Linked DNA regions of Homo sapiens: all the other regions are linked to region 3. The links come from fine-mapping of genetic effects on gene expression. A gene starts in region 3. Each other region holds a variant in brackets. All regions are shown on one strand. Distances are from middle to middle. Region 1 overlaps CCDC80 (coiled-coil domain containing 80). Region 2 overlaps BTLA (B and T lymphocyte associated). Region 3 holds the start of SLC35A5 (solute carrier family 35 member A5). Region 4 overlaps BTLA (B and T lymphocyte associated). Region 5 overlaps LOC105374041 (a long non-coding RNA gene).

What was found.
Region 1: its variant is fine-mapped to the expression of SLC35A5 in tibial artery (GTEx, PIP 0.97). The same link has a PIP of 0.9 or more in esophagus muscle.
Region 2: its variant is fine-mapped to the expression of SLC35A5 in thyroid (GTEx, PIP 0.98).
Region 4: its variant is fine-mapped to the expression of SLC35A5 in fibroblasts (GTEx, PIP above 0.99). The same link has a PIP of 0.9 or more in esophagus mucosa, ileum, lung, pancreas, spleen and subcutaneous fat.
Region 5: its variant is fine-mapped to the expression of SLC35A5 in sigmoid colon (GTEx, PIP 0.99).

The regions. Positions count from the first base shown.
Region 1 is chr3:112,600,534-112,605,639 of GRCh38, forward strand. It overlaps CCDC80 (coiled-coil domain containing 80), which reads right to left. Exons shown (of 8, transcript NM_199511.3): 8 at 1-5,106. The coding sequence ends at 4,884. Among named protein-coding and RNA genes, the nearest start is that of CCDC80, 38 kb to the right of the region's middle. RefSeq lists an enhancer at 3,355-3,524. The variant A/G (reference allele first, on the strand shown) is at 3,151.
Region 2 is chr3:112,470,412-112,475,517 of GRCh38, forward strand. It overlaps BTLA (B and T lymphocyte associated), which reads right to left. Exons shown (of 5, transcript NM_181780.4): 3 at 801-944. Among named protein-coding and RNA genes, the nearest start is that of BTLA, 27 kb to the right of the region's middle. RefSeq lists an enhancer at 3,253-3,753. The variant G/T (reference allele first, on the strand shown) is at 1,941.
Region 3 is chr3:112,560,086-112,565,182 of GRCh38, forward strand. SLC35A5 (solute carrier family 35 member A5) reads left to right here and starts at 1,960. Exons shown (of 7, transcript NM_017945.5): 1 at 1,960-2,188; 2 at 3,300-3,448. The coding sequence starts at 3,319. ATG3 (autophagy related 3) reads right to left here and starts at 1,877. Exons shown (of 12, transcript NM_022488.5): 1 at 1,372-1,877. The coding sequence starts at 1,443. RefSeq lists enhancers at 639-1,448, 1,449-2,258, 3,879-4,688, 4,689-5,097.
Region 4 is chr3:112,484,717-112,489,822 of GRCh38, forward strand. All of the region lies in intron 1 of BTLA (B and T lymphocyte associated), which reads right to left. Among named protein-coding and RNA genes, the nearest start is that of BTLA, 12 kb to the right of the region's middle. The variant A/C (reference allele first, on the strand shown) is at 2,861.
Region 5 is chr3:112,381,614-112,386,719 of GRCh38, forward strand. It overlaps LOC105374041 (a long non-coding RNA gene), which reads right to left. Exons shown (of 4, transcript XR_924334.3): 2 at 293-323. Among named protein-coding and RNA genes, the nearest start is that of CD200, 51 kb to the left of the region's middle. The variant T/C (reference allele first, on the strand shown) is at 2,680.

The DNA.
Region 1 (5,106 bases), 40 kb after region 3:
CCAGGATGATGATGATGGAGTGCTGTGGCACGATCACGGCACACTGAAGCCTCGACCTCCTAGGCTCAAGCGATTCTCTCACTTCAGCCTCCTGAATAGCTGGGACCACAGACACACACCACCTTACCCAGCTAATTTTTTGTATTTTTTTGTAGAGACAGGGTTTTGCCGTGTTGCCCAGGCTGGTCTCGAAGTCCTGGGCTCAAGCGACCCGCTCACCTTGGCCTCCCAAAGTGCTGGGATTACAGGTGTGAGCCCCTCACTGCTCCTGGCTCCCTCATTATTATATTTCCTGAAGTTGACATGATTTGGGTCCTTTACTTAGAAATTGTCATCACACAATTTCAGAAAGGTAAAGAAATCCATTTTTATTGGCAACTTTGGGCTATGCTTCATCCTGGCAAAAATTTAAAAGCAGTACACTTCGACGTGGCTCACTTTCCTGCACACCTCAGGCAGCTTGTACAGACTATCCAAGAAAAAATGAGGAGGAAAGTGCTCCATCAAGGAAGAGGGATGAGATGGGAGCATAATTCACACACTAAGAACTGAGTTCTAAAGTCACTTGAGCTTTCTGGAGCTCAGTTACCTGTAAAACAAGGAAGAATGAATGGTCTTTATGGAAAATGAATGGCAGAATAAGTGATTTGTCAAGTTCATTGAACTATAAATTCCATTTTTACTGTCATTTATTTATAACAAAGTTCAGATATAAAGAAAAATCTGAACATACAGTAGGCACAGATAAACCTATAGCAAATATTCACATGTGGTTTGAATGCATTTATTAATCTCTGTACTTATTAGAATTAATAATAATACTAAAATGATTTGGAGAATTAATGATTAATAACAGTGGAAAATAGCCTTCCCATTATTGTTAGAGGATGGTGCCATCATGATGCTAAATGCCTATCTGAGGGGAAGCTCATAAATATTACTTGACAATATTACTTGATAAATATTTGTTGAAAAAAGAAATGTAGTAAAGAAGCAAGGATGGCTGGGCATGGTGGAGCATGGCTGTGGTCCCAGCTAACTTGGGATGCTGAGGTGGGAGGATTGTTTGAGGGAAGCTGAGTTTGCAGTGAGCCAAGATTGCACTACTGCACTGCAGCCTGGGTGACAGAGTGAGACCCTCTCCAAAAAAAGAAAAAAAAAAAGAGAAAAAAAAGAAGCAGCAGCAACGAAAGGAGGGAGGAAGGGAGAAAGTTTACTTTGATATGCCATATGATTGAAACAAATGCTCTTTTTTCAAAGACAAGGATTATACTCCTTTGCATTCCAGCTACTTTGGTCCATTGTAACTTGGTAACCTTTGCCTTGAAAACAAAAAGAATCCCTGGATATAATCTCCTTCCTTGTAATTTTTTTTATAAGATGCCAGTATGGTAATAGGTCCATTAGCAAGTAAGTACAGGCACATCTTATTTTATTATACTTCTCAGATACTGCATTTTTTACAAATTGAAGGTTTGTGGCAACCCTGCATCAAGGAAGTCTGTTGACATCATTTTTGCAATAGTATGTACTCACTTTATGTCTCTGTGTCACATTTTGGTAATTCTTGCCATATTTCACACTGTTTCATTATTATCTCTGTTATTAAAATCTGTAGTCAACGATCTTTGATGTTGCTATTATAATTACTGGGGGCACCATGAACCACACTTATATAACACAGTAAACTTAATAAATGTGTGTATGTTCTGATTGCTCCAACAACCAACCTTTCTCCAATCTTTCTCCTTCTTCTCAGGCCTCCTTAGTCCCTGAGACACAATATTGAAAGTAGATCAATTAATAACCCTAAAATAGCCTCCAGGTATTTCAAGTGAGAGGAAGTTGCAATCTTTCACTTTAAATCAAAAGCTAGAAATGAATAAGCTTAGTGAGGAAGGTGTGTCAAAAGCTGAGACAGGCTGAAAGCTAAGCCTCTTATGCCAAACAACCAAGTTGTAAATGCAAAGGAAAAGTTCTTGAAGGAAATTAAAAGTGCTACTTTGTGAATGCATGAATGATAAAAAAGTAAAACAGCCTTACTGCTGATATGGAGAAACTTTGAGTCATCTGAATAGAAGATCAAGCCAGCCACAAAATTCCCTTAAGCCAAAGCCTAGTTCAGAGCAAGGCCCTAACTCTCTTCAATTCTATGAAAGCTAAAGGGAGGTGAGGAAGCTTCAGAAAAAAAGTTTGAAGGTAGCAGAGTCTGGTTCATGAGTTTGAAGAAAAGAAGCCTTGTGCATCCATAAAAGTGCAAAGTAAAGCAGCAAATGTTGATGTAGAAGCTGCAGTAAGTTATCCAGAAGATCTAGTTAAGATAATTAATGAAAGTGGCTACACTAAACAATAGATTTTCAAAAGAGATGAAACAGCCTTATATTGGAAGAAGATGCCATCTCAGACTTACGTATCTAGAGAGGAGTAGTCAATGCCTCACTTCAAAGCTTCAACCAACAGGCTTACTCCTTGTTAGAAGTTAACGCAGCTGGTGATTTTAAGTTGAAATCAATGCTCATTTACCATTTCCCCAAATCCTACGACTTTTCAGAATTATGCTAAATCTAATCTGCCTGTGCTCTATAAATGGAGCAACAAAGCCTGAATGACAGCATGTCTATGGACAGCATGGTTTACTGGACATTTTAAGCTCACTTTTTGAGTCTTACTGCTCAGAAAAAAAAAGAATCTTTTAAAAATATTGCTGTTCGGGCCGGGCGCAGTGGCTCATGCCTGTAATCCCAGCACTTTGGGAGGCCGAGGCCAAAGTCAGTAGTTCGAGACCACCCTGACTAACATGGTGAAACCCCATCTCTACTAAAAATACAAAAATAAGCTGGGTGTAGTGGTGGGCGCCTGTAAATCCAGCTACTCAGGGGTCTGAGGCAGGAGAATCACTTGAACCCCGGAGGCAGAGGTTGCAGTGAGCCAAGATCGCACCACTGCACTCCAGCCTGGGTGACAGAGCGAGACTCCATCTCGAAAAAAATATATATATATATAATATATATTATATATTTTATATATGTATATAAAATATATATATAAATGATCAGTTCCAGACCACTATAATATATATATATATAGCTGTTCACTGACAATATACCCAGTCACCCAAGAACTTGGATAGAGATATACAAGGAGATTAAT[A/G]TTTTCGTGCCTGCTAACACAATACCTATTGTGCAGCACAGGAATCAAGGAGTCATTTGCACTTTTCGTAAGACTATAACTGTCACAGATTGTGATCCCGCTAATGGATCTGGGCAAAGCAAATTAAAAACCTGGAAAGGATTCACCATTCTAGATGCTGTTAAGAACATCGTGATTCATGGGAGAAGGTCAAAATAGGAAGATCAATGAGTTCGGAAACTGATTCCATCCCTCATGGATGATTTTAAGAGGCCCAAGACTTCATTGGAGGAAGCTCTGCTATAGACATAGTGGAAATAGCAAGAGAACTGGAATTAGAAGTGGAGCCTGAAGATGTGACTGAATTGCTGCAATCTCATTACAAAAGTTTAATAGATGAAGACTTGCTTCTTATGAATGAACGAAGAAAGTGATTTCTTGAGATGGAATCTACTCGCGTAAGTTGCTATGTACATTATTGAAATGACAACAAAGGATTTACAACATTACATAAATTTCATTAATAAAGCAGCAACAGGGTTTGAGAGGATTGGCTCCAATTTCAAAAGAAGTTGTACTACTGGTAAAATGCTATCATACAGCATCACATGCTGCAGAGAAATCTTTCATGAAGAAAAAGTCAATCGAAGTGGCAAACTTCATTGCTGTCTTATTTTAAGAAATTGCCACCATCACCCCCAACCTTCAGTAACCACCACCCTGATCATTCAGCAGCCATCAACATCAATGCAAAAAGATTATGATCATTAGCAATTTTTAGCAATAAAGTATTTTTAAAATAAAACATGTACATTTTTTGGACATAAAGCTATTATACACTTAATAGACTACTAAAGAGTGTAAACATAACTTTTATATGCACTGAGAAACCAAAAATTTTGTGTGACTCACTTTATTGCGATATCCACTTTATTATGGTGGTCTGGAACTGATCCTGTAATATCTCCATGGTATGCCTGTGCTGTACAGGGGGTAAAGTGTGAGGGGTCAAGAATTTTCATGCCAGAAATTCCATAGCAGCCTACTAGAACTCTGGAAGTATCGCCTTTGGCTGCAGTGCCAGATTCTGGTGAGGATTTCCTGGACCCCGATTTATATCTGAAAAAACACTAAAAATAACAGAAGCAGGGCAGGAAGTGGCTATGATAACAAAGCTGGGCTTGGTACTTTCTCTGGCTTTTGTGGCCAATATTACTGGACTCCCGTGGTATCAAGTTTCATAAAAGAAACTCATACAAAGCAGAGATATCTTAATTATTTTCAGACTGGCATTTCAAAAAGTGTCAATTTAAGTAAGTATTATAAGTTATTTGTTCTTTGTTTTATCTTTTCAGATGTTTCTTGAAAACATTGTGGTGTGATCTTTAACAGAGTTTTCACTTACCAATTAATACAAAAAATAAGAAAAAGCTTTAAATACATATTTTATAAAATTTTATATGCCAAATAAGGTCCTTCATATAAGAAAAGGAAAATAATATCAATTTTCAGTACTATTATTTAGCACTAGAGCCCCTCCAGTTAGAAAAACAATTCTTTTAAATGTCTTTATGATTTGAGGTTTCAATAATAACTCATGAATAGGTGAAAGTTTGCTATTTATTTAGTCTTAGAAAAACACTGAAAGAAAAAGGCAGGAAATGTAGTACGCAGTGTGGAAGAATGGAGCTGGCCACATGTAGTTTTAGCAGCTGCAGAGGAAACTGGCTGAGTCTAAGGTTACATATTTCTGCTCAGTAAGGGTATCCATGGTGATAACTCTCATGATGACGGTAGTCATCCTGGTAACCATCCTGGTATCCTTGGTGGTAACTATGGTAACCATAGCCTGCATACTCATCTTCTGGGCAGCGCATCCCCAGTGACTGCTGAATCGCCATTTCCTGTCTCCGAAGTTGCATCGAATCAATTAAATCGTACACAATCACCATGGACCACATTGGGGAAGGATACCAG
Region 2 (5,106 bases), 90 kb before region 3:
AATAAGTGTTGCTCTATCTAGCTCAGTTTCTATAGCTACACTGTAGCTGGTGTTGTGAAAACAGGAATGTGAGAGGATGGAGGAGAAGAAAAAGGAAAGAGAAAACTGAAGTAGTTCAGGCCAAAGCTAGATCAGAATTCTCTATGCTTTCCTCTCTTACTTAACATATTTGGTCATGACATTGAGAGAGTTCTTGCAAAAGTAGAAAGGAATTATTTTCAAAATATCACACCATTCCCATCATAGCCAAACCCACATTTTTCATATGCATTATTGTTGGGTAAGAATTCAGGTCAAGCATATGTTTATAATGGCAATAGAAAATACAGACATATTAATTTTCTCTGGGGACATTGGTTCTTCAGTTACATAAGGGTGTGTGTGGGATTGGCATGATGTGGTGTGGCTGTGAAAAGAGGATAATACAAAATAAAGCAGATATCTTGATCTGAGAGATTGTTTCAACTTCCAATCCTGTTAAGGTTTAGAAGAGCTCTTTCTCACACAAACCTAAGATTGATGCAAAGAGAATGATGAAGTCTCAGCAATGTGCTATGCTCGCCACAACTCTAGCTGGAATACTGTGCGTGGTGAGCATGCCTCTCCCGTGACTCAAGGGAGCCCCAACCAACCTATTTAGCTTTTTAGCGCAAATATGAGTTGTCTTCTAGGAAATCATTATCCATGGTTTACAGGATTGGGAAAGAAAACAACAGGAAGAAACTAAAAATCCTTTAGCCCCAGAAATAAGAATGGCCCCAAATGTGTGGTACTGGGGGCAGAGGGAAAATAGAACCCACCTTGGTGCCTTCTCAGGCAGCAGAACAGGCAGAAACAGGTAGTGATGAGTAGAGGCAATCCCCCCAAAGGAAGTAAACGATACAGGAGCCAGGGTCTGCTTGCCATTTCGTCCTTGGAGGGTCGTTCTGAGGCACTTTTTACATCTGGAATGTTAGTAAATGCTAAAGAGAGTTAGGAAATCTGAGATATATTGGGATCAGCGGCACCCCTCTGCATTGTCAGAACTTGAGTGAAGGAGATTTCAGGCCAATGCCTCCATTTCCCCTTCAGAGGCATTCCTCAAGAATCCCAGTGCCCTCAGCCACCTCTTGCTTTCTTGCTGAGCAGACGTGGCTCTGCGATAATTTATCTTTTGCAGAAATTCTTTATTCTGATAGAGTTAATCTTCCACAGAACAATCTTCATGATAACTGTCAGAAGGTACTTCATTAAGCCTTTCTATTTACAGTATCTAACTCTCATATTCATCACTTAAGTAGGAAAACCATTGTCTTTATTTTGTCCCAAGAGTTGCTCCAAGTCAGATAGCTAGTGAGTGGCAATGGGAACTCAAGCCAACATGTTTGTAACAGGAAATTCAAGTTTCTTCAACACAATGTCCTTTCCTTGTCTCGTAACTTATCAGAATCTCCAAATATCAAATACTTTTGATAGCCTTAAAAGTGCTCTGCATGGCACACAGCTAATGCGCATTACTATTGATCAATGTTAATACGCATTGAGGCCCTGTTTGTCTGCAGTTGTTCACAGCTCATTAGCAGGTTGTGAAACAATTTAGTATGTCACAAATAGCATTTTAAAAAATGAAACAGAAGAGGATAGAAATCATCAGAATGCATCACACACACTAGAGCAGTGGTTCTCAAGCAGGGAACATGTGTGGCAATGTCTGGAGACATTTTTGGCTGTAACAAGGTAGGGGGAGGGAGGCTGGCAACCAGTGAGTAGAAGCCGGGGATTCTGCTAAACACCCTACACTATACAGGATGCAACCCCCACTTAGTGCAACAAAACATTATCCAGACCAAAGTGTCAATGGAGAAACTCTGTCTTATGGTTAAGTATGACCTTATGAAACTTTTTTATATTTGTGTGCATTATGGGTTGTGATGTAAGATCTGGTTGTTGTTGTTGTTGTT[G/T]TTTTTTTTAATTTTGGGTTACAGTTAACACAGTATGAAAAATACTGGAGTAAGATATTCTAAGGTCTGGCCTGGTGGCTCACACCTGTAATCTCAGCACTTTGGGAGGCCGAGGTAGGCGGATCACTTGAGATCAGGAGTTCGAGACCAGCATGGCCAAAATGGTGAAACCCCGTCTCTACTAAAAATACAAAAATTAGCTGGGCGTGGTATGCACCTGTAATCCCAGGTACATGGGAGGCTGAGACAGGAGAATCGCTTGAACTCGGTAGGTGGAGACTTCGGTGAACCGAGATGGTACCACTGCACTCAGCCTGGGTGACAGAGTAAGACTCCATCTCAAACAAAAAAAAAATTCTATTAATTATATTATAATGTTATTTTGTTTGGCTAGATGCTTAGGTTTGGGGTAAAAATGATTAGAGGCAACTGAAGTTGCACAAAAAGTGGTTTGGTTATTCAGAGTGGTAACAAATGTTGTCTATTGATGTTGCAGCTGCTGTTTAGGTTAGCGAGCAGCCAAACCACTGCCAGGAGTGCCAGAAACAGCTGCCTGGGGGAGGGTCTTGGATAGCAATGGGGACTAAGGTTTCTACAACAGATACCCTAATACAAACAGATCTGCTGGATCAAGAAGATCCAACTTCTGTTATTTCTTTAACCACCAAAAAAACCTAATTTCCTTAATTTTACTTGATTAGTTTGATCAAATAAAACTAATTCAGAACAAACTGTTTCTCTATTTCAGAACAAACTCAAAACTCCCCCTAACTTATTTTGAGTTTGTTCTGAAATAGAGAAACAAGGTAAATAACTGAAATTGATTGAGAAAATGATGAGGGTGTACTCTCACGTGTCCAAAACCAGAGCTAGCCTTGGGGAGGATTCCAGTGTTTGCACACTACCAGAGAATCCAACAATCTATCTCAAGATCAGTAAGCACAATTTGTGGAACATCAACCCCACGATCATTGACACAAAGTAAATATCTGGGCTTATTTTGAAGCTCACTGAAAGACTGTAAATACAACGCAATCTTTGTCTGTCTGCTTTGATCACCTCTTCCCCATTCCTTAAGCATAAGGACACAGTATAGTCTGCACAATGATATCTCTGGCACCTGGAATAAGAAGAGGCACATTCAGCAGGTGCTCCAAATCAGGGTGGAAGCCCACAAGGACTTCCTGCCCTCTCACTCCACACCCACTTTCCTGCCACAGATAATGATCACATTTTGGGGAAGTTCTTTTTTTCTTCTTCTTTTTTTTTTTTTTTTTTTTTGAGATGGAGTCTCGCTCTATCACCCAGGCTGGAGTGCAGTGGTGCAATCTCGGTTCACTGCAGCCTCCACCTCCTGGGTTCAAGTGATTCTCCTGCTTCAGCCTCCTGAGTAGTTGGGATTACAGGCGCCTCCCACCGTGCCCAGTTTATTTTTTGTATTTTTAGTAGAGATAGGGTTTCACCATGTTGACCAGGCTGATCTCAAACTCCTGACCTCAAGTGATTTGTTCGTCTTGGCCTCCCAAAGTGCTAGGATTACAGATGTGAGCCACCACGCCCAGCCTTGGGGAAGTTCTTAATCTGAAACTGACCAAGGGAAGTTTGGGAAGGGTGAAGTGGCAGGCCAATGGATGTTTCAAGGGCTGTTCCCCAGCTCTGTCAACTTTTCCCCTAGGACTTTGGCTTGTTGTGCAAGGTGCTTTTCTTCATTCTGGGAGAATAGTGCTTTCCCAAGAGCATCCAAGCCCCAACTCTGTCACAGTCCTGTTCTTACATGAACTTTTAACTTGAACATAAACAGCAAAAGAAAGTCACTTATAAAAACAAGAAAATGTCCAAAATCACTTCGGAAATATATTTCACAGGAAAAAATAAAATATTTTTTATCAGACCTCCAAAATTTCTTTATGAAAAGCATGGTCCTTAAACATATTTCCAAAATATATTTTTCTCCTCACCTTATACTTAGTTCACTGAGCACTTTCAGGTTCAGAAGGAAAAGGAATTTTTCTTTGACCCTCCCTGTTATTTTTGTTTTCACCACTTCACTAAAGAAAAATGCACACCTAGATTAAATTAGTTTTAAATCCACACAGAGTTTAAATTAAAGTTAATTCCTAAACAATTTACCTTTTGTGAAGGAAGTTAAAAGAAAAAAAAAAAAGAAATATTACACAAATTCCAGCCTTCCAGGACATTATAATCTTTCATGGGACCTAAAAGACATTTCCACACATTACTACAGTGAAAGGAAATGATAAATGAGAGGCACAGACTTAAATGGCATAAAAATTGGTAAAAAGGAGTGATCCCTTCCCCTCAGGTGATCATGAAAAGCTTCCTTAAGAACTTGGAAAATTAGCTGAGATTGAAAGGAGGGGTAGAATTTCCATAGGTGGAGACAGATGAATGGGTGCTCTACAAGTGGCAAGAGCAGCATACACAGGGCAATGATGGAGATGTGGTTATGGCAAGTAAGGCCGTCAGGCTGCAATTGAGAGGCTGTATATGGAATCCAGAAACAATCTAGAAAGGTGGTGGGATCAAACTGTGGAAGACTTTGAATGCTGGTTAACAAAGATGAGCCCAATATTGTGACCACTGGGGATGCTATGCAAGAGAGTGTTGTTATGAAGGAAGTGTATGAGGTAATTTAAGTGTATTTGGCTGAAATTGACCAAAATGGGGAAATACTAAAGACAAAGAGTCCAATCATAGAATTAATTGGAATTATTTAGAAGGAAGATAATGATGGTGCGAGATGCTTATAGAAGCAATTGGAGGAAACACATCACAGAGTGGAATGTTGTGGAGAGACAAGAGTAGGAAGCCAAAGAAAATTCTCTGGGATTTTCCATGAGGATCAAGAGCATTAATTAACAAACTGATAAGGAAGGGAGTGATAGGAAGGATAGGTGAGTAGGAAACTAAGAGAGTAGAAATGTTCAAAAAGAAACTGACAAGGCCCTTCATGTCTCCTATTTAGCTCTTAGACTTTCTCTTTCACCACTTCATACTTCACATACTTTGTTCCATAAAACCCCCCAAGGCACAGGATTTAGGAGGGAATGTTATTCCCTTTCCCCTAAAGTTGGGTTCTTTCCTCCACAAAATAGATAGATTGTTGATCCTAATCTCAGCCCCAACTTGATCCCTAGAACAGGCA
Region 3 (5,097 bases):
GCAAGTATGATGGACTCCTGAAAACATAATTCTACATCATACATTTTATATTTCATTTGGGCAGTCTCTTGCTCCTCTCTCCCGGAAACTAAAAAGTTGTACAATGGTGTATTATTAAAATACTGTATACCTAGGTAGATATGATATTCTGAAAAGTTAACATAATTATGTAAAAGCATTTGATTCAAATGTGAAAATTATTTTCCAATCTTAGTTTGACTGAATAATCTTAAAATGACTTTCACAGTAAACAAATGTAAGCAAAGCAACAGTTGAAATTCTCATTTATAATCGCTGGTTTATTTCTTACTTGGCCAATAAGTTATTCTTTTAAAAGGAGCTTTACAAAAACGTATTTTAAAAAGTATAGACCTAGTACTTCCCTTTGTCATGGAAAGGGAGCAAAGCAAAACTCTCCACTATTCTTAGCATATTAAGGTATTTCACCCCCACACTGAGATTGGTACATTCTAACTGAAAGCTTAAAAACAACTAGAAAAAAAAAACAAAAACTAAGCAAGAACTTCCCATTAATTTACTATTCTTGCTCACTTTTCAGAAAGCAAAAATGAAGTTACAACAAAACACTCCAAAAGAGTTATAAAAGAAAAGCTTGAAGGCAGTTGTAGAAATTTACCTTTAAAAAAAAAATCAGTCACTACTGTAACAGCTAATGTGTCACAATTTTTTACTTTAAAAATGCTGTACTGTTGCCAATATATTTTTAAAAATTATACAGCCAGGAAGGTCAAACCGTGCCTTGTTATCACTAATAACCAGCTACGGCTATCTGAAAAGCTTGGGAAAAAGGTTTTGCTCGTTAGATGGGTTCAAGGTTACTGAATGAGATAATGTTGCCAATTTCACCTCCTTCCTCTGAAATCTAAACGAGTTGGGATCGCAGTCACAACTTCCCCACTACAGCGGACTTTCATGAAACTTAAAGGAAAAGTGACCTCACCTCAGGTCTCTTTTGACCTCTGTGTGTCAAACACTAAATTCATTTTTTAAAGAGAAGCAAAATCCTTGCTTAAAAAGGCTAAAAGACTTCCAGTGTTTGGATTTAACGTTCTTCAATCTACTCAGCCTCCGAACACCCTTCCAACCCGACGTACCCGACCGCGCAGAGTTATGACGGGAGAAGGCAGGAACACGCAGAGCGTCGCTCCAAGTTTACCCCTGAGGAGTCAGAAAGCCCTAACGAACAGCCGGTTAAGACTACGGGTGGGGGCTGCACACTTCCCTGTGTCTCGAGCCCTACTGCCTTCCTACACCTTGCCCCGCCGGAGAAAGCGGGGACTCCTGCGGCGCCTGGTCCCTGAAAAGTCGAGCATGTGCCTGACAGCTCCCGGCAACCCTGGCCTGGCTTACCTTGAGGACCGGGGTCAGGTACTCAGCCACTTCCAGTGCCTTTCCCTTCACAGTATTAATCACATTCTGCATCCTGGGGCCGGAGTAGCGGCCGGCCCCGCGACGGGATGGAAAGTGCAGCCGTGTCAGGGGCCAGGGAGTCAGAAAATGTCCTCGCTGCCACCGACTCGCATCAGCACCCGGCTGGCAGCACCCGAGGGGACGGGACGCGACGCGACGGGACGGGCGGGACGAGGGGGCGGGGCGGCAGGCACAGCGCGCGAAGACGGGGTGCGCGATCCTCGCACCCCAGGCAGCCCGCGACGGACCGGACCCAGCTGTCACCCAGCCGCGAGGGAGGGCAGCGGGGCCGAAGGGAGACCTGAGGTGAGAAGCGGACGCACACGCACCCCTCGCCCTCTGCGAGCTGTCTGTCCTCGCTTTGCTTCACTCGCGCCCCTTCCGGCTTCCCTTCCTTCTCACTCTCTTGCCGTAGCTGCGCCGCCACCGGGGCCTCACGTGACACTAGACTCTCCCGGCACGTGACGTGAGAAAGGGGCCGGGCTGGGGCGGGATAAGCCGCTTCTCCCCTCCTTCCGGAAGCGTAACACTGAACGTGCCTGCGCAATGGGTGTCGGGTCCGCTTTTTCCCAATCCGGACGTAATCGTGGTTTTTGTTCTGCAATAGGCGGCTTAGAGGGAGGGGCTTTTTCGCCTATACCTACTGTAGCTTCTCCACGTATGGACCCTAAAGGCTACTGCTGCTACTACGGGGCTAGACAGTTACTGTCTCAGCTCTAGGATGTGCGTTCTTCCACTAGAAGCTCTTCTGAGGGAGGTAACCGCGCCCCGCGGGCAAGGAATTGCGCCTGCGTCTGAGGGGAGGGTGCGCCAGTGAAGAGCCCTACTGCGCATGTGTGACTAGAAGGGTAGTCCCTGACTGTGAAGGGAAATCTGGCCCCCTCCTGTCGGGGAGGCGTCCTGTAGGCGTGCGCCCAATGGGGCTGTCAGTATTGGCATTTCTCCCCACTCCCCGCAGGCTCTATGCGCTATTCCTACAGTACGCTGGGAGGCTTTGGGCAAGTTACTTACCCAACCTGGGGTTTAGTGTCCTCAGCCTATCAAAAGAGGGCCTTAGATTCATTGATTTCTACGATCTCCTCCATTTCAAACACTAACTAGTTCAGTAAAACTTTACAGCAGTGTTTCAGATATTTCCATTTTGGTCGTTATTGTAATGAAGTCTGTCCTAATAAGCTTTTTCCTCCGAGGGAAAAGAGGAGGAAAATACAATTCTGAAAGCCTTATCTTACAGCAAAATTATTTACTAATAAGAGTAAAAGCGAGGCCGGGCGCGGTGGCTCACGCCTGTAATCCCAGCACTTTGGGAGGCAGAGGCGGGCGGATCACAGTCAGGAGTTCGAGACCAGCCTGGCCAACATAGTGAAACCCCGTCTCTACTAAAAATACAAAAATTAGCCGGGCGTGGTGGCGGGCGCTTGTAGTCCCAGCTATTCTGGAGGCTGACGCAGGAGAATCGCTTGAGTCCGGTAGGTAGGGGTTGCAGTGAGCCAAGACCGCGCCGTTGCACTCCAGCCTGGGTGACAGAGCGAGACTCCGTCTCAAAATACATAAATAAATAAAATTTAAAAATAAAATTCAAAATTGCTTTGAAGAATTCTTTTCTGCTGTTGCAAAGTGTCATTTGCTCACCTGCTACCTTTGTCAGCAGGTCTAATCTGGTTCTACGTTTTCTGTCTCCAGAGTACTCCCTCTTATCAGATTTTCACTTTCCTTTTGTCATAGTTTCTTTATGCCTCAACTTTCTTGGTGCTGATATAGTCATAGCCAAAATTTTTTAAAAATTCCTTTTTTGTCCTCACGATCAATGGTATTTGCGTTTAGGGTCTGCCAACAAGGTCGTTCATGAAAGTGTTTTTCTCTTTAAGGTAATTAAAAAACAGTGGAATGGAAAAACAGTGCTGTAGTCATCCTGTAATATGCTCCTTGTCAACAATGTATACATTCCTGCTAGGTGCCATATTCATTGCTTTAAGCTCAAGTCGCATCTTACTAGTGAAGTATTCTGCCAATGAAGGTAAGTTAAGACTTGGTATATGCATGGAGCACTTCCATCTAATCACACATCTCTCTCTTGCCTTTGGTTCTGTTATATATAACATGGAAATAATAATGCCTTTTGCTTCATGTGAGTGATAAAGCATATTTAAATTTGATTATTTAACCTTGCATTCCTCAACAAGAAAAAATGTTTGATAATGGATGAAATGTGAGTCAATCAGATACAAAAATCAAACCCTTTGGTGAAGAACCAGTCGTAACATTTGACTGTTAATTCAATCAACAGGTGTTTCTGGACCTATAGCAAAATGTGTAATTGCGCCTTATTTTGAAGTAGAAGGATATATTTGTTTGGTCACTTGGCATTTGTGAGGTACTTACTATTGTAATTATTGTATCAATGGTAAGGTGTCAGCATTATATTGTGCGGTCATATTGTATCAACAGTATAAATTATAAGCTTTGATAAGTATGTATTTAAGAAATCTTTTTTTATGTAGGGATTTAAGCAAACACTTTAATTCCACAAAACTGTATTGAGTACTTCTTACTAGTTATTGAGTGAAGGGGTGGGTTGCCCCTCCACATCTGTGGGTGTTTCTCGTTAGGTGGAACGAGAGACTTGGAAAAGAAAGGGACATAGACAAAGTATAGAGAAAGAAAAAAGGGGGCCCAGGGGACCGGCGCTCAGCACACGGAGGATCTCTGCCAGCCTCTGAGTTCCATTAGTATTTATTGATCATTATTGGGTGTTTCTCGGAGAGTGGGATGTGGCAGGATCATAGGATAGTAGTGGAGAGAGGGTCAACAGGTAAACACGTGAACAAAGGTCTCTGCATCATAAACAAGGTAAAGAATTAAGTGCTTTGCTTTAGATATGTATACACATAAACATTTCAATGCCTTAAAGAGCAGTATTGTTGCCCGCATGTCCCACCTCCAGCCCTAAGGCGGTTTTCCCCTATCTCAGTAGATGGAATATACAATCGGGTTTTACTCCGAGACATTCCATTGCCCAGGGACGAGCAGGAGACAGATGCCTTCCTCTTGTCTCAACTGCAAAGAGGCGTTCCTTCCTCTTTTACTAATCCTCCTCAGCACAGACCCTTTACAGGTGTCGGGCTGGGGGACGGTCAGGTCTTTCCCTTCCCACGAGGCCATATTTCAGACTATCACATGGGGAGAAACCTTGGACAATACCTGGCTTTCCTAGGCAGAGGTCGCTGCGGCTTTCCACAGTGTTTTGTGTCCCTGCGTACTTGAGATTAGGGAGTGGTGATGACTCTTAACGAGCATGCTGCCTTCAAGCATTTGTTTAACAAAGCACATCTTGCACAGCCCTTAATCCATTTAACCCTGAGTTGACACAGCACCTGTTTCAGGGAGCACAGGGTTGGGGGTAAGGTTACAGATTGCAGAACAAAATGGAGTCTCCTATGTCTACTTCTTTCTACACAGACACAGTAACAATCTGATCTCTCTTTTCCCCACAATTGAGGACACATACAATCATGATATGACCTTTAATGGTCTACTACTTGGAGAGTCAGATGTGTACCCAAGTCTCTACTGCAGTTAACATTTACCTGCCAGGCACTAGGCTAAGTATTAGCAGCAGGTTCAAAGTGCATAAGATATAGACCTTGTCCTCAAGACTTAGTTTAT
Region 4 (5,106 bases), 75 kb before region 3:
GGGTTAGGGGTGGAGAAAAGAGCTAGCTTTTTGTGTTGGTGGCATCACTGATTCACAATAGGATTATGGAAACATTGCAGTTCCTAAATATTCTTATCAGCAGGATAATGATCATTGACAACCACACTGACTGGCACAGGAATTTTTCTTGAATGGAGGAATGAACCGATGATGAATGTAGGCTTGCAAGCAGGCATTAGAAATCAAGAGTACTCCCTCTGTGCACAAACAAGGTATTATAATACCTCCTATCTCTCAGAGGCTAACACTGATGTTTGTAGTGTAAAAATGACACACTGAGACAAATAGCACAATTCTATTTTTTTTAATTAATTTATTTTTTTTGAGATGAAGTCTCGCTCTTGTTGCCCAGGCTGGAGTACAGTGATGCAATTTCGGCTCACTGCAGCCTCCGCCTCCCAGGTTCAAGCGATTCTCCTGCCTCAGCCTCCCCGGTGGCTGGGATTACAGGCACCCACAACCACGCCCGGCTAATTTTTGTATTTTTAGTAGGGACGGGGTTTCGCCATGTTAGCCAGGCTGATCTCGAACTCCTGACCTCAGGTGATCCACCCGCCTCTGCCTCACAAAGTGCTGGGATTACAGGAGTGAGCCACCGGCCTGGCCGACAAATAGCACAATTCTAATTGTCCATCTGACAAGCTTGTTAACACCCCTTTTCTGCCTGTTCTGAATTATGCATATCCATCTTATGATACTTAGGACACACAAAGCTATCCCCCAAAAGTTTGTCTTATCAAATAAATATTTCCCGAAGAGGAATAACTATCACAGTTGCTTTTGGCTGTTACTCAACTTCCAATTATCAGTTATTTGATTTCATTTTTTATTTATGTATTTTTTGAGACGGAGTTTTGCTCTTGTTGCCCAGGCTGGAGTGCAATGGAGCGATCTCGGTTCACTGCAACCTCCATCCCCGGGTTCAAGCGATTCTCCTGCCTCAGCCTCCCAAGTAGCCGGAACCATCAGTTATTTTTATTCCTGCTCTTATTATCTCTGCTGTTTTTCTCAAGCATTCATATCTGATGACAGGAAATTTTCAATGCTAAAAATGATTAAAATAAATACATGCAGTAAAAGAATAAAAACTTCTGGCCGGGCACGGTGGCTCACGCCTGTGGTCCCAGCACTTTGGGAGGCCGAGGCGAGTGGATCACGAGGTCAGGAGATAGAGACCATCCCGGCTAACACGGTGAAACCCCGTCTCTACTAAAAATACAAAACAAAAAATTAGCCGGGCGTGGTGGCGGGAGCCTGTAGTCCCAGCTGCTCGGCAGACTGAGGCAGGAGAATGGCGTGAACCCGCGAGGCGGAGCTTCCAATGAGCCTAGATCGCGCCACTGCACTCCAGCCTGGGTGACAGAGCGAGAGTCCATCTCAAAAAACAAACCAACAAACAAAGAATAAAAACTTCTACTCCCCCCCAGGCTCTTATATAATGAAATATCCCTTGTTAAGTCACTATAGGTTTAGAAATTCTTTCATGTTTAAAATTTTTATCAAAACCACTAGTGGTATATATATTCCACGATCAGGTGGTACCGATGATATTTTATTTTAGGTCTAGAGTACATCATTTGAGCAACCCCTTTCTCTATACATAAAAATATTTTCAGAAATAATCATGAGATAAAACAAGTAATAAAATGGCCAGAAAAGAAATATAGACAATGAATATTTTCTTGTGCTGAACTTCATGTATAAAACCATACAAATGAAAAAATGTTTTAAAAAAATTAAAATACAAAAAAAGAAAAATGCACAGGTATTTATTCAATCATTTTTATATCCACCTAAACAGTATGAACTTTGATTCTTTAGTTATAGTCTGATATAATAGTTTATGTAAATAGTTGTCCAATAACTAATAAATGGATTGTATTAAAACTGAAATTCTGCAAAGATACAATTTAGGTAACTACTAAATTGTAACACTAAAGTTTTATTTTCTAAAGTTAGTTTTAAAACAACATTAAAAAAATTTCAATTGTAAAAATATTAATCAATCTAACATTTTATGCATGAAATAAAGTTGCCAAGCCGAAGATTTTATATATCACAGTTTGTATCCTTTTCACTGTTTTAAATTTTAAACACAAATAAAAATTCAAGAAGTTTGCACCAAATGACAAAAATGAAACAGCTCCTGTTCTGCTTCTTTGTCTCAGCATTCTCTGTGGTATTATTGTTTATTTAAAATTGAATGTTGAAAGGCTGGAGTATGTAGTACCACAGAGATGAGGACACAAAGTGTCCTTGGAGGAAACTGGAGTGATCCTGGACTTTATAAATTTGCTATCAAAATGAACACAAGTAGCTGAATGGTATATGTCCAAGGCCAGCTGTATAACTGGGAAGTTCTCTGAGTTAACTTGCAAGTAGAATGCAATGTTTGTCAAATGATATATACTACAAATGTGCTAATTTGAAGTTTACATATATATCATAAAACTCAACAGTAACCATAGTATTTAGAACTTAGACCAAAAATATTTTGAAGGGTAAATATTTCACCTCTGACATTGTTCATGTTTGCTAGTATGTGGTGATAATTAAAAGGAAACCGGCCGGGCGTGGTGACTCATGCCTGTAATCCCAGCACTTTGGGAGGCCAGGGCGGGCGGATCACCAGAGGTCGGGAGTTTGAGACCAGCCTAACCAACATGGAGAAACCCTGTCTCTATTAAAAAATACAAAATTAGCTGGGTATGGTGGCGCATGCCTGTAATCCCAGCTACTCAGGAGGCTGAGGCAGGAGAATAGCTTGAACCCAGGAGGCGGAGGTTGCGGTGAGCTGAGATCGTGCCATTGCACTCCAGCCTGGGCAACAAGAGCGAAA[A/C]TCTGTGTCAAAAAAAAAAAAAGGAAATCAACTTTTAGTTGTTTTTAAATTCAATACAGACAATGGAGCCACTTGTTCACACCCAGGAGTCTGGATATCCCACTGTCCTTGACACATTAGTAACGAGACAGTTTCTAGCACAAAGAAGAGGCTGAAAGTCTTACACCACTTTTCAATTTTGCCATTAGATTTTTGTTGTATTATTTTGGATATGATATAATCTCTCAGAGCTTTCAGATCCCTCAAGAGGAAGACAGTCTTTCTGGCTGGGTCAATCAGGAAAGGCTTCATGGGGGAAGATAAATCTCTTTCTTCCTCCAAGCCAACCCCCAGGCAAATTTGGTCCTCCTCTCATTATCACAGTATAATACCATCATCTACCTAATCACATTAGCCAGAACCTGGGGAGCCATCTTAGTCTCCTTCCTTGTCACCGTCCCATTCCATCAGCCATGAAGTTCAATTGATTCAGGATGGAAAATGTCTTCCATATTTGTTTCCATGACACTGCCTTAATTTGGATCTCATTCTGTTTCATGTGGATTATTGTCACAGCGTACCAAATGGTCTTCTACATTCCAAACTTGGCCTTGTTTCCCTCCCTCCACCTCAATTCTCCACATCACTGTCACAGTTTCCGTTTTCTTTTTTCTTTTTTTTTTTTTTTTTGAGACAGAGTCTCGCTCTGTCGCCCAGGCTGGAGTGCAGTGGCGCAATCTCCGCTCACTGCAAGCCTCCCGGGTTCACGCCATTCTCCTGCCTCAGCCTCCTGAGTAGCTGGGACTATAGGTGCCCACCACCACGCCCGGCTAATTTTTTGTATTTTTAGTAGAGACGGGGTTTTACCCGGTTAACCAGGATGGTCTCGATCTCCTGACCTCGTGATCCGCCCGCCTCGGGCTCCCAAAGTGCTGGGATTACAGGCGTGAGCCACCGCACTGGGCCTAGCCCAGTAAGTTTATGCAAACTTACCATACCCTCATATCCCCACTCCCTAGCAAATGTCTGATGCTATTTTGTGTGAGATGCATCACTCCTTTTTTGTTGTTGTTGTTGAGACGGAGTCTCGCTCTGTCACCCAGGCTGGAGTGCAGTGGCGCGATCTTAGCTCACTGCAACCTCCACCCACCGGGTTCAAGCAATTCTGCTGCCTCAGCCTCTGGAGCAGCTGGGAATACAGGCACCTGCCACTGCGCCCGGGGAATTTTTATATTTTTAGTAGAGATGGGGATTCACCATGTTGGCCAGGCTGGTCTTGAACTCCTGACCTTGTGATCCACCCGCCTTGGCCTCCCAAAGTGCTAGTATTACAGGCATGAGCCACCGCACCCAGCCGACATGCATCACTCTTTATAACTACATATGTGTTCATGTTTCTGTCTTCTATCTAGTCTGCTACTTCCTTGATGGTGTGTTACCTTTCTATGTAGTACTGGTTGCACAGCAGAGACAGCTAAGCCCTTAGAGAGGTGGGCTAAAAGGCACTGAGGTGAAGAACATATGCAGCTCAACATACCTTACAGTGGTTAAGTTATAACTACCAAAGAAAAGCTAGACTTTACAAGTATTCAGTTTGAAAAGGCCTGATTTATGTCCACTCAGGGGTGGATATTAAAAATATTTAACAAGTGACACTCCATGGCCATCCAGCTACACAGATCAGCTGATCAGAAAGGAGTGCCAGCCACAAACAACTGTATAGTCTCGTAACTCCCAGCTGAGCAAGTGTAGTTGCTGAGCTGAAGAGAGTAGGTAATTTTTGAAACCAATCAGCCATTTAAAAAAAAAGAGGGTTATGATTATGAATATTTTATAAAATATCATTATTTCTTATTTTTAAATACCATATGTTTTGATTATAACCATTATCATGAGGAAAATCTCACCTGAGTTTCACTATGTCTCCATTGAAAAATTCTTACAAATTTATGGAAACTTCAAAGTGGTTGCAACCATTCAAATAAATGAATGACTGTAATGAATGCAGATTGCCTTAACTTGAGCTAAGAAAGTGTCAGAGTTTAACATAGAAATTAAACAAATGATTTTTTGAGAAACTAAAATGATTACTAACGGTATAATAAACCAATAATTTTCTGTGACATCAACCAGGATTTTAGCTTCTATCAGAAAATACTATCACAGACAAACAACAAGCAAACCAAAACTTCAGACGCATGCTGGGGAGGCTACAGAAGGAATGAAGTCTTTACACTCAGGAGCAAAAAGGCATCCAGATGGTATGT
Region 5 (5,106 bases), 180 kb before region 3:
AGAAGTTTGCTGCAGGGGCAGGGCACTCATGGAGAACCTCTGCTAGGGCAGTGCAGAAGGGAAATGTGGGGTCAGAGCCCCACACAGAGTCCCTACTGGGCCACCACCTAGTGGAGTTGTGAGAAGAGAGCCATTGTCCTCCAGACCCCAGAATGATAGATCCACCAATAGCTTGCACCGTTTGCCTAGAAAAGCCACAGACACACAATGCCAGCCTGTGAAAGTAGCTGGGAGGGAGGGTGTACCCTGCAAAGCCACAGGGGTGGAGCTGCCCAAGATCATGGGAACCCACCTTTTTCATCAGCGTGACCTCGATGTGAGACCTGGAATCAAAGGAGATCATTTTAGAGATTTAAAATCTGACTGCCCCAATGGATTTTGGACTTGCATGGGCCCTGTAACCCCTTTATTTTGTACAATTTATCTCATTTGGAACAGCTGTATTTACCCCATACCTTCCATTGTATCTAGGAAGTAACTGGTTTGCTTTTGATTTTGTAGGCTCATAGATGGAAGGAGCTTGCCTTGTCTCAGATGAGACTTTAGACTGTGGACTTTTGGGTAATGTTGAAATGAGTTAAGACTTTGGGGAACTGTTGGAACGCATGATTTGTTTTGAAATGTGAGGGCATAAGATTTGGAGGGGCCAAGGGCAGAATGATATGGTTTGGCTCTGTGTCCCGACCCAAATTTCATCTTGAATTGTACTCCCATAATTCCCATGTGTTGTGGGAGGGACCCAGTGAGAGATAATTTGAATCACTGGGGTAGTTTTCCCCACACTGTTCTCATGATAGTGAATAAGTCTCACGAGATCTGATGGTTTTATCGGGGGTTTCTGCTTTTGCATCTTCCTCATTTTCTCTTGCCACTGCCATTTAAGAAGTACCTTTAGCCTCTGCCATGATTCTGAGGCCTCCCCAGCCATGTGAAACTGTTAAGTCCAATTAAACCTCTTTTTATTCCCAGTCTCAGGTATGTCTTTATCAGCAGCGTGAAAACAGACTCATACACTCGGCCAGAGGACTGCCCACTGCTTCCCGTAGACTGGCTATGATGCTTGGTTTGCCAAGACCCCACCACATCTTATCTTGTCCACAGGGTGTTACACTCATCTCGGTTACCTCCCTGACCTCTCATAGAGCTTGAATCTGCAACTGCTGAACTAAGTAAATTAACACATATCTAGATTTCAGGTGCCCCTTCTTCCTCTCCAGAGTGCTTTCTCTGAGACCAACTCTACCGTTTCCCAGAGTCAGAAGATCCCCTCTCATGGCTCTACACACTACTTACTGCCTGTCTTCTTCTTTAATTTGTCTGTTCCCCTTCCCAGCACATGCACGCATCTTGAGTGCGGAAACAGTTTTGGTGTTCTTTGTAACCACAGCACAATCCACATGATGAATACTCCTGGCAGGCAGATTAAATCTTACCCAAATTAGTATGTGCTTTACTTGGTATTTTCTGTGAAATTACTTCCAGAAAGTTCTTTAGTTTGTCACTTCTTTGGCTATAGTTAGGCAGCCAACAGCAGGACAATTCTACAGAAATGAAATATTTTTTCTAAAATCCAAGAAAGATGATAAATGAGATTGATTAAATTTCAGAAGAAAAGTGGTAAAGCACTATTTGTATAAACCAAATTCTGTACGTGTCTTAGCCTAAGAAATAACCACCTGGAACACAATTTATATCTTCATAGCACATTTTCTCTGTATACACAAGTCCTACTCCATCTTGAAGCAAGGTTTAATTGTCCTCTCCTTTTGAAGGATGTTCTCAGATTTTCTAGGCTAAGATCCAACAGCACTTTGACAGATTTCTATTGTAATGCTTTATTTGGTAAGTATTTATGTATTTGTTTTCCCCAGTGGCCTGTGGTACAGAATCTACATTATTCTTTAAATTTGAAATAACCATCAGAACTAGGCTGAGAGAAGGTGCTCAATGTATGTTTGTAGAATAAAGTTGCTTCAAAATTGGTATCATGAGATGAACTTAATTGTTTCTATTTGAAACAATATAAAAAACAGCAGTGTTACCAGTAGAAGGTATCCAGGTTCTTGGCATCTGGAACAAAGAATTGGACAAAACACACAAACAAAGCGAGGAAAGCAAGGGCAGGGATTTATTGAGAATGAAAATACACTCCACAGTGTGGGAGCGGGCCGAGCATAGGGGCTCAAGAGCCCCACTTACAGAATATTCTGGGGTTTCAATACTCTAGAGGTTTCCCATTGGTTACTTGGCATATATTCTATGTAAATGAAGAGAATGAAGTGAAGTCACAGAGTCATTTACTCAGTATGTGCCATATTGTAAATAGAGAGGATGTTACCTGATGCGTGTGATCTAGGTAAATGGAGAGGATGAATGTGAAGTTACAAAGTGTAAATCATGTGAATGGAGAGGATGAAGTGACTACATGTCTGCAGTCTGAACTACTTGGGAGACTGAAGTGAAAGGATCTCTTGAGCCCAGGAGGTCCAGGATGCAGTGAGCCATGATTGCACCAATGCATTCCAGCCTGGGTGACAGAGCAAGACCCTGTCTCATACAAAATAATAATATGATAAATAAATTACCAGTGTGCATAACATGCAATAAGGGCAAGTATTCATTAATAAAATGCTCACAAATATGTACTTTGGATTATGCCATAAAAGGTATTTCTCCCCA[T/C]GGGTTATGTGAAAGTGCAAAAAACATTGATTTAAAATGTGACTGAGTTATTAATGTCTGTACAACTCAGCAGACAGTTCAGTATATATTTCAGTAACTTTTTTGTTAAAAATAAAGTTCGAGACCAGTCTTGCCAAATGACAAAACCCCGTCTCTACTAGAAAATACAAAAACTAGCCGGGCTTGGTGATGCACACCTGTAATCCCAGGTACTCCAGCTACTCCGGTGGCTGAGGCACGAGAATTGCTTGAACCCAGGAGGCGGAGGTTGCAGTGAGCTGAGATGGAGCCACTACATGGCAGCCTGGGTAGCAAAGCAAGACTCCATCTCAGAAAAAAAAAAAAAAAAAAAAAAAAGACAAGACATCTCCCTTCTTCTTTGTAGCAGAGCTGAGAGCTGGCATACAAACTCAGAGGGTTCAGGTTCCAACACTCAAGCTTTTTTCTTTCTTTTTTAAATATCTTGCTGGCAGAAAACTGCTTTCCTCTAAGCTGCCATTCAGGGCCCAGTGAAAAATGACCCTGAAAAATCCACCATCAAAGATTAAGAGAGAGCCCTCAAACTTTGCATGCTCCTGACAAGATCCCTCCTCCCTCATCTCTCAAAAACACCAGCTTTGTCACCATTATCTAATATGTCTTTATCCATATTTACATCAGTCATTGCAAGAAACCAAGGACTGATTCTTAGGAAATTGCTCATTCCTCCTTACACTCATTTTGATAAGGCTCTGTTAATTCCTGTTTTTGATCAGTCCTCAACCACTGAACTCCTCCAACTCTGTTCCCTGGAACTCCAATAATCAGCAAACTTCTCTGTGGCCTCAAGTTTTTTCCTAAAAGTTCCCTTCCACCTCTTCTTGCACTAACTGAACTTGGTGCCCCTGGAGGACAGTATCCCCTGCAGCCCCCTGCAGTGGTTTTGCCTTTCTTGTATCACTGGATGCAGACATATGCATGGGGGGAAGGGATGTCCTTTTTGTCCCCCATTGCCACTTCTAGGCTGCTGTCTTTTCTGACTCCATAAAAGGACTTGCTTGAATCTCAAATAATCAGATATTTTACCTTCTCCTTCCCTTTGTTATAGTCATTCATCTTCCCCAGATCACCCCTGCCTCCCACATTTCTTGAAGATTTTAGTTCCTGGTTAACAGTCAGCCTCCAAAACTACTTCTGTGATAAAATTATTCGCTATATATCAATGTGTACACACATGATCCTTTTAATTCCCAGGCTTTTTCCCCTCTACCAACCCAGTCCTCATCCTACATCTGGCACTTGCCTCACTCCTATAATCATATCCTAATCTTTTTCTTACAGAAACTAATACCCCTTTGTTACCTCATTTACACACTTCCCATTGCCATAAGAAAATTTCCTATTTTTCCTGTTCGCTTCCTCTCTGGCTTTCCTTTATGTATGCCTTTCTTTATTCTTTTTCTTTCATCTGTGGTTTTCAACTAAGGGCAATGTTGATGTCCACCCCTCCAGCAGGTATTTAGAGATGTCTGAAGACATTTTTGGTTATCACACCAAGAGGGTGTTACTGGCATCTAACAGGTAAAGGCCAAAGATGCTGGTGACATCTCCCAATATACAGGACAGACCTCCTGAATTTTCCAGTACAAAACATAATTCAGTGCAAAGAATTATTCAGTGCAACAGGTCAATAATGCCAAGGTTGATAAACTGCTTAACATTACCAGGATCTACAGTCCATTGATTTTAACATGGCGTTAGAGATCAAACTGCTTCCTCCAAAAAACATATGTTGAAGTCCAAACCCTGGGTTCCTCAGAATGTGACCTGATTTGGAGACAGGTCATCGCAGATGTAATTAAGTTAAGATGGTATTATGCTGGAGTAGGGTGCTATCCAATATGACTGACATCCTTATAAAAAGGATGCCATGTGAAGACACAGAGGCACAAGAAGAACTTCGTGTGAAGATGGAGGACTAGAGCGATGCATATACAAACCAAGGAACACCAAAGATTGCCTGCGGACCACCAGAAGCTAGGAAGAGGCAAGGAAGGATCCTCTTCTAAAGATTTCAAGAGAGCATGGTGCTGCTGACACCTTGATTTCAGACTTCTATATTACAGACCTACAAGACAATAAACAACCTTGTTCATGGTACTTTGTTACAGCAGCCACAGGAAGCTCATACAACTGGTTTCTCTGAACTTTGCTTGAATTTACGTTCTCACTTCCAGCCTTGCCCAGCTTAAATAATAAGACCAGAATACTAGCTATTAATAATGGAATCGTGTTTGCTAAGCCATAGAATATAAAATCTTACACTACTGTGTTTATTCTAATTAGGAAGCAAAGAGATTCAAATCTGGTTGTGCGTATTCATCTATCCAATCAAGTGATAAAATGTTATAGGCAGTTATGACAGAATTTGTCTCAGGGTAAATTTGA